Linked DNA regions of Homo sapiens: region 2 is linked to region 1. Evidence: fine-mapped expression QTL. Tissue or cell type: whole blood. Region 1 holds a variant in brackets; the other region holds the start of a gene. All regions are shown on one strand. Distances are from middle to middle.

Region 1 (5,151 bases):
GTTCAGAGACTCTATCAGAAAGATGAGGAGCTCATGAGTCATCCATCAATGTGATCTTGTGATTTTTCTTGTGACCACAAGACAAAGGAAGAGAAGAGTACTTTGGAGTCATTATGATGAAAATTCAGTTGAATACACTGGAAAGTCAAAACGAGAGGAGAAGGAGGAACCGAAAATCTGATTCAGTCTTGACCACCAAGTAGAATTGGGACAGAAACAATTAAGTAGGCACAGATCCAATTTGGATTATAAAAAGCTGGTTCATCAGGAAGGCCACTATAAAACCAGAAGCAAACGAAGAGTCAATTAAGTACAAAAGTTTTTACTATGACTATGCAGTGAGGTCCAAACTGTACTAAATTTGAAGTTCCCTGCCAAAGAGAAATGTAAGCTTCCCTGGTGGTATAAGTCAGAATTTCATGACATCAGCCAGATAACCACAAAAGAATATATCTTTTAGTGCTAGATGCTTCTAAGCCTTTCTCCACCCAACTAACCAACATTCACTTACTGATTTACTTATTTCTTTAACAAACACACTCCATTTCATAGCCACATTCTTTCAAAGCTGACAGGTTGAGATATATCTAAAACACAAAATCTCCAACATACATTTTCTTCTTCAATGTTGTGAGATGTATTTTTCTAAAACACTGTTCTGCACATACTACCATTCCAATATTAAAAACAAGTTAGTTATCCACTGCCTTTTTTGTACAAATGAAATTCATAAATTTTAATTTGGTTACAAAAAAATTTTTCATCAAAATTTTTGCTTATTTGTTTATATAAAAATGGAGACAGGGTCTCACTATGTTGCCCAGGCTGGCCTCAAACTCCTAAGCTCAAGTGATCTTCCCACCTTGACCTCCCAAAGTGATAGGATTACAGGCATGCGATACCAAGCCTGGTATAATTTAAATTTTTAATTAAAAATTGTTAATTTGTCTACAAAATAAATATATACTCATCATCAAAAACTTTCAAAGAAGAAGATTAAAATCACCATAATTCCAACACCCAGACACAATCACAATCACTTCTGTAAGTTAGGATATACTGACAGCCTATGTGACAGGGAAAAAACTAAGTTGTAAGAATTTTTTAAAAACCTCCTATTCCCCATTACAGTAGATTTTATTACTCAAAATATTTGCTGCCCCACCCTGGGGAAGATAATACTTCCCCACTTCATTGCATCAGCCTTAGAGATGTGGTTTGAGGTGTCCCTTCTTGTGGGAGGATTACATATTCTCATCTCCTTGACCTCAAGAGTGGCCATGAGACTTGCTTTGACCAATGCAATGATAACAGAAGTGATGTGTGCCACTTCGAAGCAGAAGCTCTGATTCATCATATGGTTCTACTATGTTCGTTCTCTCTTCCATGAAACCAGCAATATCCCAAATACAGACTGCTGGTCCCAGGATGGAAAACTTAGAGCAAAGCTACCGGTAGCCCACAATGTGAGCAAGAACTGAACTTTAGTCATTGTAAGCCACTGAGGGTTTTGGAGTTGCTTGTTACCACAGCATAACTTAGCCGACACTGACTGATACCACCTACCTCCAAAATGTCATCTGAGTTTTCTTTATGTCTGAAGAGAGCCTTTATGCATTGAAATAAATACTCCCTTTAATTTCAACTTATATTTTATATATTTAAATTATATGTTTTAAAACTTAATTTTGAAGACTTTAAACTTGTGTTAATTTATAAATCAGTTTTGTTAATATTTTATTATCTACTTTTATTTGGTTTTGATGAATGCCCAACTGGCTTGTAAATTTGATAAGGTACTCCCAAATATTTATCAAACTTTCAGAATTAAGTTTTAGACATTTCAAACTACAATCTAATTTTAATTGATTTCTCAAGGAAAAAAACAACAAAGCAGACTCACATTTCTATAGGCAAAATCTTAATAAACACTGAAAACATACTGAACTTAAAAAGTTTAACCTTACAAATTTAATAAATTATAAATTTAAAGATTTAACAATTTAAACATTTGAACATTATTTCAAACTTAGTTATCAACATCTTATAAATTTTTACTAATATTTTGAGTCTAATGAATCAGTCTCTTTACTTACCTTAAAAAGCAGAAAAATATACACAAAATACTATAATGGTTACAAAACTTATTTCTAGATAAAATTTATGACTAGACATAACTTAGCTTGTCTTCCAAGGGTCTTTGAAAGTATGTTTGTTTTCTGGCAATAAGAAGATATTTCCAGACTCATCTTGATATTTCCTGCCGTAAAACATGCAATGAATTTTTCTCCAGGGAGCCCAGTGCCCTCAGGGTCTTCTGGCTGGAATGCAGATTAGATGGATTGGCAAAGCAGCTGCTGGGGCCACAAGGGGAAACCAGAAATCCACAGTAATCTTTGACCTGACGTCCTTGAGCTGCTGAACCAACATCCCAGGTTTTTAAGTCCCTGTGGTCCATTTGTCAAATGCAATTCCTTACTGATATAATGGTTATACAAATAAAGAAGCCCAGAGAAAGCACTGCATATGGAAAGGAAAGATTGACCTAAAGGGGAAGATCTTGTGGGGAGGGGAGGCAGTGAAGAAAAGAGGAGGCAGGAAAGGGAACTGGGGAGAGAGGGGAGATCTGGCAGTTTCTGTGAAAGCAAATTAGTAAGGATTTTAAGAAAAGTTTGCCTTTATTCCATTGCCATAATGGGGATTAGAACAGTAACATCCATAGGATCATTGTGAGAATTATGCCAAGCACACATTAAGTGTTCAATAAACATTGGCTATCATTATTATTTTATTATGCTGGGCCTCCAGAATGGATTAGAGTTGCAGACTGGAACATTATAAGGAAATCCAGGAAGTCCATTCATTCTTACTCTTTCCCTCCCTCTCCTCTCTTCCACAATTGCTCCTCTGCACAGCTGTTTTAATCCTATATCTTTCTGCAGATTGGCTTTCTTTCTATGTCTGTGATGCTTAAAACAGTCACTAACAACATCTTTCAAGTTTCCAAACTCCTTGGTTCAAGACAGCAGCCATTTCGAAGAAATTTCCAGAAAGACACTGATTGTCCAGCTTAGATGGAAAGTCCACTCTTGGATCAATTAACTGAAGCTATGACAGGAGAGTTGTATGGAAAA[C/G]ACATGGCTGCTCCTACTAGAAAACTTCCCAAAATATGAAGGAGGGAAAAGCAGGGAGGAGGTGCCGCTGTGAAGACGTAATGGTAGGTAAACATTTGGGTACATTTCCTTTGGGTCCATGTGCACACGAGTACGTTTATGCATGTGTGCATAACTTGGATAGCACTGTATATAGGTTTTGTTTGTTTGTTTGATTGTTTTAGAGACAGGGTCTCCCTCTGTCACTGAGGCTGGAGTGCAGTGATGCAATCATAGCTCACTGCAGCCTGGAACTCATCTGCTGCACTCAAGGGATCTTCCCACCTCAGCCTTAAGAGCAGCTGGGATTACAGGTGTGCATCACCATGCCTGGATAAGTTTTAAAACAATTTTTTTGTAGAGACAGGGTCTCATTATGTTGCTCAGGCTGGTCTTGAACTCCTGGCCTCACGTGATCCTCCCACCCCAGCCTCCCAAGTAGCTGGAATTATAGGCATGAGCCACTGTGCCTGGCAACAGCTGTCTAAATTATTTTTTACAAGGCATTCAGAACACATTCAATAAGATATTTTTCTACAGCACTGTATTTATTAGCTAGGTTAACATTTCCATATATAGATGTTCTAAGTGAATTTAAATTATTTCTATTATTTTGCTTTTATGAACTCTATTTGAGTGATATTCTTGTAACTGAATAGTTGAAACTATTATTAACTCCTTAGGGAAATTCCTTAAATTGGAATTGCGAGGTCAGAAGGTGTGTCATTTTTTAACAGTTTTGATACATTTTGCTAAATGTGCCAGGCAATTTAAGCCACACTCCCACCACAACATACAAAATGCAGTCTTCCTCAATATCGTCTTCAGTGCTTAGTTGAAAATTAATCACCATTTGATAAGTGAAACAAAATTTCCTTAATTACTAGTAAGATTGAAGGATAGTTTCATGTTTTTTTGACCAACTGTTTTTCTATTATATTCTTATTGGTTTATAAGAGCATTTTAGCCGGACTTGGTGGCTCATGCCTATAATCCCAGCACTTTGGGAGGCCAAGGTGGGTGGATCACTTGAGGTCAGGAGTTCAAGACCAGCCTGGCCAACATGATGAAACCCCAACTCTACTAAAAATACAAAAACTAGCCGGGCCTGGTGGCAGGCACCTGTAATCCCAGCTACTCGGGAGGCTGAGGCAGGAGAATCACTTGAACCCAGGAGGCAGAGGTTGCAGTGAGCCAAGATCGCGCCACTGCACTCCAACCTGGGCAACAAAGCGAGATTCCATCTCAAAAAAAAAAAAGAAGGCATTTTAATTACTAAATATATTGCTGGTTGTGGTGGCTTGTGTCTGTAGTCCCAGCTACTTGGTTGAGGCCAAGAGTTTGAGCCTGGGCAATACAACAGGGCCCTATCTGTAATTACATCTTCCCGGTTTGTCGTAACCTTGATATAATTTGTTTTAAGTTCAGATACTCAAATCTCTTCTTTCCAGCACCTATCTTTATCTTTCCATATGCCTAGAAGGATATCATCCACTATCTACCTAAGTATCACCCTTTCCTATGTCCCATTCCCTAAATAGAGTTTAGACATTTCAATTGGCATTTAAAAGTCCTTCACAAGGCACTACGATGTCTTGTTTTTCACTACTGCCATCCACAAATCTTTCTTTTATCCATCCATTTGTTCATTTATTCATTTGTCACCTATTTACTAAGCACCTATTATGTACCAGGCATCATTCTAGACACTGGGGATACAGGAGTGAACACATCCCTACCCCTAAGGGAGCTTGAATTTTAGTGCCACTGAAGACAAACTGAAAAGGTAAGAAAATGTATATAGTTGGCTGGATGGTGATAAGTACTATAGAAAACAATAAAGCAGTAAAGTAGGGTAGGAAATTCAGGGAGAGAGTGAAATCTTACATAGAATAGTCAGGGAGAACTTCACTGAAAATGTAATACATATTTGAGGAAGAGTGTGAGGATGGTGACTGATATGGTTTGGCTGTGTCCCTACCCAAATCTCATCTTGAAC
Region 2 (5,151 bases), 130 kb after region 1:
ATTGAGAGCAGAGATGCTTGTCTGACTTATGACTATATAGCAGGCTCCTGGCAAAAGGCAGGTGCCCACAGAAACAAACAAGAATTGGTAACTTCTGACGGTGCTGTGAGGTTTTGTTTGCTTTCCTTTCTTTTGAGATGGAGTTTTGCTCTTTTTGCTCATTGCCCAGGCTTGAGTGCAATGGCGTGATCTCAGCTCACCACAACCTCTGCCTCTGGGTTCAAGCGATTCTCCTGCCTTAGCTGTGTAGCTGGGATTACAGGCATGCGTCATCACACCCGGCAATTTTGTGTTTTTAGTAGAGATGAGGTTTCTCCACGTTGGTCAGGCTGGTCTCCAACTCCTGATCTCAGGTGATCCGCCCGCCTCTGCCTCCCAAAGTGCTGGGATTACAGGCATGAGCCACTGCGCCCAGCCTGTTTGCTTTTCTTTTAACTTCCTACCGCCCCATCCACAGGAAATCACAGTGTGATCACCATCACACAGCACTGAGGCCCACCACAGTGATGCCTCCAGCAGGCCTGGGAAAGCAGGGGTTAACTTTGATTTGGTTCTTTCCAAAGTCCTAAGAGGGGAGACTTTAGAAACCTGCTAAAACATCAACAGCAAAATAATTCTTTTACAAAACCCATTTGAATACTGGTAATTACAGAGCTCTAAATTAGGAACTTGGGAATGGCAGAAAGAGCCTCAAGGGGACTTCAAGGGACCAGGACAGATGCCCCTAAAGAGCTGTATCATTACTACGTAATAAAAAGTGTCGCATCATATTGGAGAAAAAGTATTTCAAAACGGGAATAAAAGATTTGCAGAGCTTTCTGAAAACAGTCTTTCCTGGTCCACCTTGTTCTCAAATACCTGGTAAGGTGGTGACCATTCTCATTCTCTTTCTCTCTCTGCCTGACACAGGGAAAAAAAATCATTTCGTCTCAGTCGTCAAAAGCCTCAATTTCCTCAACTCTGAAAAGGCCAGCTTTAATGTATGCCAAGCACAGTATTAGACCTCAAAAACCAAGACAGCTCCACGTGGCCACTCTAAACAGGACAGATTATCTGCCAGTATAATCGCCGGTTACAGAAACCCACAGTTTAACCACTCCATCACTTACAGCTGGCCTCGATTGTGGAAAGGCTGAGTGTCAGCAAGAACACCCCGAACCAGGATGCTCCCTAGAGTCTGATTCGTTCGTGAAAACACTCCATTAAAACTCTGTACCGAAACGCTGATAATCCACATGTAAAGGGAGAAAAGAGCTCCACATCCAAGAGACTCACCTACTTCGTTTTTTCTAACTCTGCAGGAAGGAGTGAAACCAGCATTACAGGGCTAAGACGTACTAATTCTACACTGATGCAGTAACTGGTAGGAGACATAATGTTTTAAGACATCATAGGTTTAAATAGGCGAGAGTTAAAAAACAGGTTCGAACAAGTTTATTTGCAAAGAGAGGCAGGAAGGTTCCAGCCCTACCCAGGCAGTCGTGCTAGTACCGAGCCAGGGTTGGGTCGGGAAATTCAGGAAGCAGGGCTGAGTTTTCCCTTCGCCCAGACCTGCGCCCGGTAGTTTGGAAGTCAGGCTTCGAGACATTCTCAAAGGTACAGAGCCCACGCTCGACTACGAGATGCCAAGCGCAACCTGCCTGGGTTGTTTGACCCGAGTTTTATTCAGGGCATAGCAAAGGAGACGGTGCCTAAACCCACTTTTCTTCCTGGATTCATCCGACAAGCAGAGTGGAGAGGGCTACGGAGCTCAGCGCTATTCACCAGTGCTCGGCGCAAGAGGCGACACGCCCCTGGAGCAGTCGGGATCCTCCGCCCGAGCCCGGCACGCCCCGCTCCACGCGGAGTCCCGGAGGCCGGACGGGAAGACCCCGGGGTAGCCTCTCGGGCTTCCCCCTGCCCCTTCCCGCCCGCCCAGGGCACAGGATTTCCCGGACGGCTGAGCGCCGCGGGGCCAGCCCGAGCGACCCACCCGGGCCCTACGTTCGGCCGCGGAGCTGGGAGCGCACCCAGGCAGGTCCTCCACGCCTGGACTCCTGGCCCGGTTCTCCGATCTGACAACCCCCGCGCTGCGCCCGGCCTCGCTCACCTGGCCCGCACAGCACTGAGCTGACATCGCGGCGGCCAATGCCGAAGGCGCGCTCGCTGGCTCCCCGCGCCGCACGGGCCCTCCTGGCTGCCTCGCGCCTCGAGCGCTGGGCTCAGCCGCAGCTCACACTTGAACGAAGATCAGCCTCGGCGAAGCGCCTAGGCGCCGAGGCCTGGGTAAAAACAACTGCGGCCAAGCCCCGCCCCGCCGCCGGCCCCGCCTCGCCCGCCCCCAGCCCCGCCCCGTGCCCGCCCCTTCCCGGGCGCCCGGCGGCGGAGCAGGCTCGACCCGGGCTCGCACTTCCGCTGGCGTCAGGCGGGTGGGCTGCTGCGATCACTTCCCGGTTGGGGCGCCGAGCTCCGGAGTCGGCCGCCAGCCTTTGGGCCCCACGCTCCGGGTCTGGTGCGCGGTCTGGCCGCGCTCGGGCCCTCGCCAAATGAGAGCGCAGCGCCTCTCCGCCTTCGGATCCAGAGAAAGAGCTTGTTGCTGCCTCTAAAAGGTTGGAGCCTTAGTAAGCGGTTCCTGCCTTTCCTGCACAGACCAGACCGCCGGGTGCTGGTCTGCGCTCTGCCGCGCGCCGACTGGGACAGCCCACCCACGAGATCCTTGTTCCTGAAATCCCTTTCCTTCCCTCATCTGCCAAGAAAACTTTCAACTTTTGGGCTCTCCGCGCCTCCCAAGCTTCCTCGAATCCCTGGGCCCTTGACTGTTCTGCCCTGATGGCACTTGGTGAGAGATCCATTGAGAGCCCTTTCCGTGCCTTCCTGAATATTGATATGTTTTCCAGCCTCTCCTCCTGCGCTGGCCCAAGGACTCATTTTCCGTCCCTGCTTCCTCACTAAAAAGAGGGTGCCCAATAATTGCTTGTTCCATACAGAAGGCAGGGAGGCCGTCTCTAGGTTTTCTCCCACTCAGATCTGCTGTCCTCACAGCCACCTCCCCAAGAGGAATGAAGGTATTTCTTTTTTTTTTTTCTTTTTTTTCTCTGAGACGGAGCTTCACTCTGTCGCCCAGGCTGGAGTGCAGTGACGCGATCTCGGCTCACTGCAACCTCTGCCTCCCGAGTAGCTGGGATTACAGGCGCCTGCCACCACGCCCGGCTAATTTTTTGTATTTTTAGTAGAGACGGGGTTTCACCATCTTGGCCAGGCTGGTCTCGAACTCCTGACCTCAGGTGATCCGCCCGCCTCGGCCTCCCAAAGTGCTGGGATTACAGGCGTGAGCCACCGCGCCCTGCCGGAATGAAGATATTTCTGTTAGTGCGATTTTTGCGCCAATCCCTTTGCTCTTTCAAATAAGCATTACCGTACCCATTTTAGCGGTGAGGCAACTGAAGCCCAGAGAGGTTAAATAACTTGCCCAAAGCCTCACAGCAAAGTTGAGGAAGTAAAACTGGGCCTGGAATCCACTCGTCTGATCCCCTGGCACATGACGCAAGGCTTGACCTTAGAGGGACTCGTTTCCAGACAGAGCTCTGGCAAAGGAGTGTCTTGGGCAGCTTAGGAGTAGAAGAGGAAAGGTGAATGGAAACCAGGCCTTGGGTTATGAGCTGCGCAGGATTTTCCAGCATCTCAGATGCAGGCGTTTAGAGAAAGAGATATAATGGAGCAGGCCCTACTCAGAGCCACGAAAAGGAATGAGGACAGTTGGCTCTAACTCAAAACAAAAATAGGGTAAACCCAATCAGTCAAGCGCAGCAACCTGCTCCGTGGCGATCTGTGACTCATCAGAAGCTGAGGCTCTCACCAGGACTTTCTAATGAGCTTCGCTGTTGGCTACGACCGCGGTCACTTCACTTCAGCCCTACTCCTGGCCTGGGGAAATGGGCAGGCCCCCTAGTAGCTCGGGGTGGGGAGACGGGTGGAGAGGAAGGAGGGGCGAAAAGGGAAGGCGCGAAATCTACAAATGTTTAAGCCAGCTGGAACTCCGATGCCTCTTTGCCTTTTAGGGAAATTGACTCGACTCGGAACTCGAGGACCTTTCACAAGAGACCACTGGGTTAGGGGGCAGAGCTGGTAATAGAATCCAGCGCTCCGAACCCTGAATCATGTCCTCTTTTTGCTGCTGAGGCTCAGGCCACAGCACCCCAAATTATGACTGTAGAATACCAAAATATGCTATCCCAAAATACACTTGTTTGGCACATTTCAAGCTGGTTATTCTGAGAAACTGCAGACACGGGAGTAGCTCTGAAAAGCTGTCCTTTTGTAAAGCAAATTTACATCTATAAAGGAAGTCCACATAGTAAAAGTATCTGTGTCAGGAAGGCAGCTGCTCAGAGAACTTTTATTACATGAGAGACTTTACATAACAAGGCAACTTTTTTTTTTTTTTTTTTTTTTTTTTTTGAGGCAGAGTCTCGCTCAGTCGCCCAGGCTGGAGTGCATTGGCATGATCCCGGCTCACTGCAACCTCCGCCCCCCGGGTTCAAGCGATTCTCCGGCCTCAGCCTCTGAAGTAGCCGGGATTACAGGCGCGCGCCACCGCGCCCGGGTAATTTTTGTATTTTTAGTAGAGACGGGGTTTCACCATGTTGGTCAGGCTGGTCTCGAACTCCTGACCTCGTGATCCGCCCACCTCGGCCTCCCAAAGTGCTGGGATTACAGGTGTGAGCCACCGCGCGCAGCCACAAGGCAACATTATTTACCATACATTTCCTCCACTAACCCTCCTATATCCTACCTGTGGTGCCTCCCCACTGTCCCCACAGAAGCCCCAAGCCCTTATTTATTTCTAGCTCAGAATGCTATAAGCTTCAATCATCTGGCCCTTCATGTTTTGTGAGATTCCTGTGCTGCTGCGTATGCAGGTAATTAAAACGGTTTTTCTTCTGTTAATCTGTCTTATGTCGGCCAGGCGTGGTGGCTCATGCCTGTAATCCCAGCACTTTGGGAGGCCGAGGTGGGCGGATCACGAGGTCAGGAGTTTGAGACCAGCCTGACCAACATGGTGCAACCCCATCTCTACTAAAAATACAAAAGAAGTAGCCGGGCGAGGTGGTGCGCACCTGTAATCCCAGTTACTCAGAAGCTGAGGCAGGAGAATCGCTTGAACCCAGGAGG

Evidence for each region. PIP is the estimated chance that this variant, and not a neighbour inherited with it, causes the effect.
Region 2: it holds the start of SERINC5, and the variant in region 1 is fine-mapped to the expression of SERINC5 in whole blood (INTERVAL, PIP above 0.99).

The regions. Positions count from the first base shown.
Region 1 is chr5:80,125,981-80,131,131 of GRCh38, forward strand. It overlaps a transcript of SERINC5 not described here. Among named protein-coding and RNA genes, the nearest start is that of THBS4-AS1, 45 kb to the left of the region's middle. The variant C/G (reference allele first, on the strand shown) is at 3,135.
Region 2 is chr5:80,253,807-80,258,957 of GRCh38, forward strand. It overlaps SERINC5 (serine incorporator 5), which reads right to left and starts at 2,242. Exons shown (of 12, transcript NM_001174072.3): 1 at 2,090-2,242. The coding sequence starts at 2,116. RefSeq lists silencers at 1,725-2,004, 2,115-2,554 and enhancers at 2,408-3,341, 3,342-4,275, 4,276-5,151.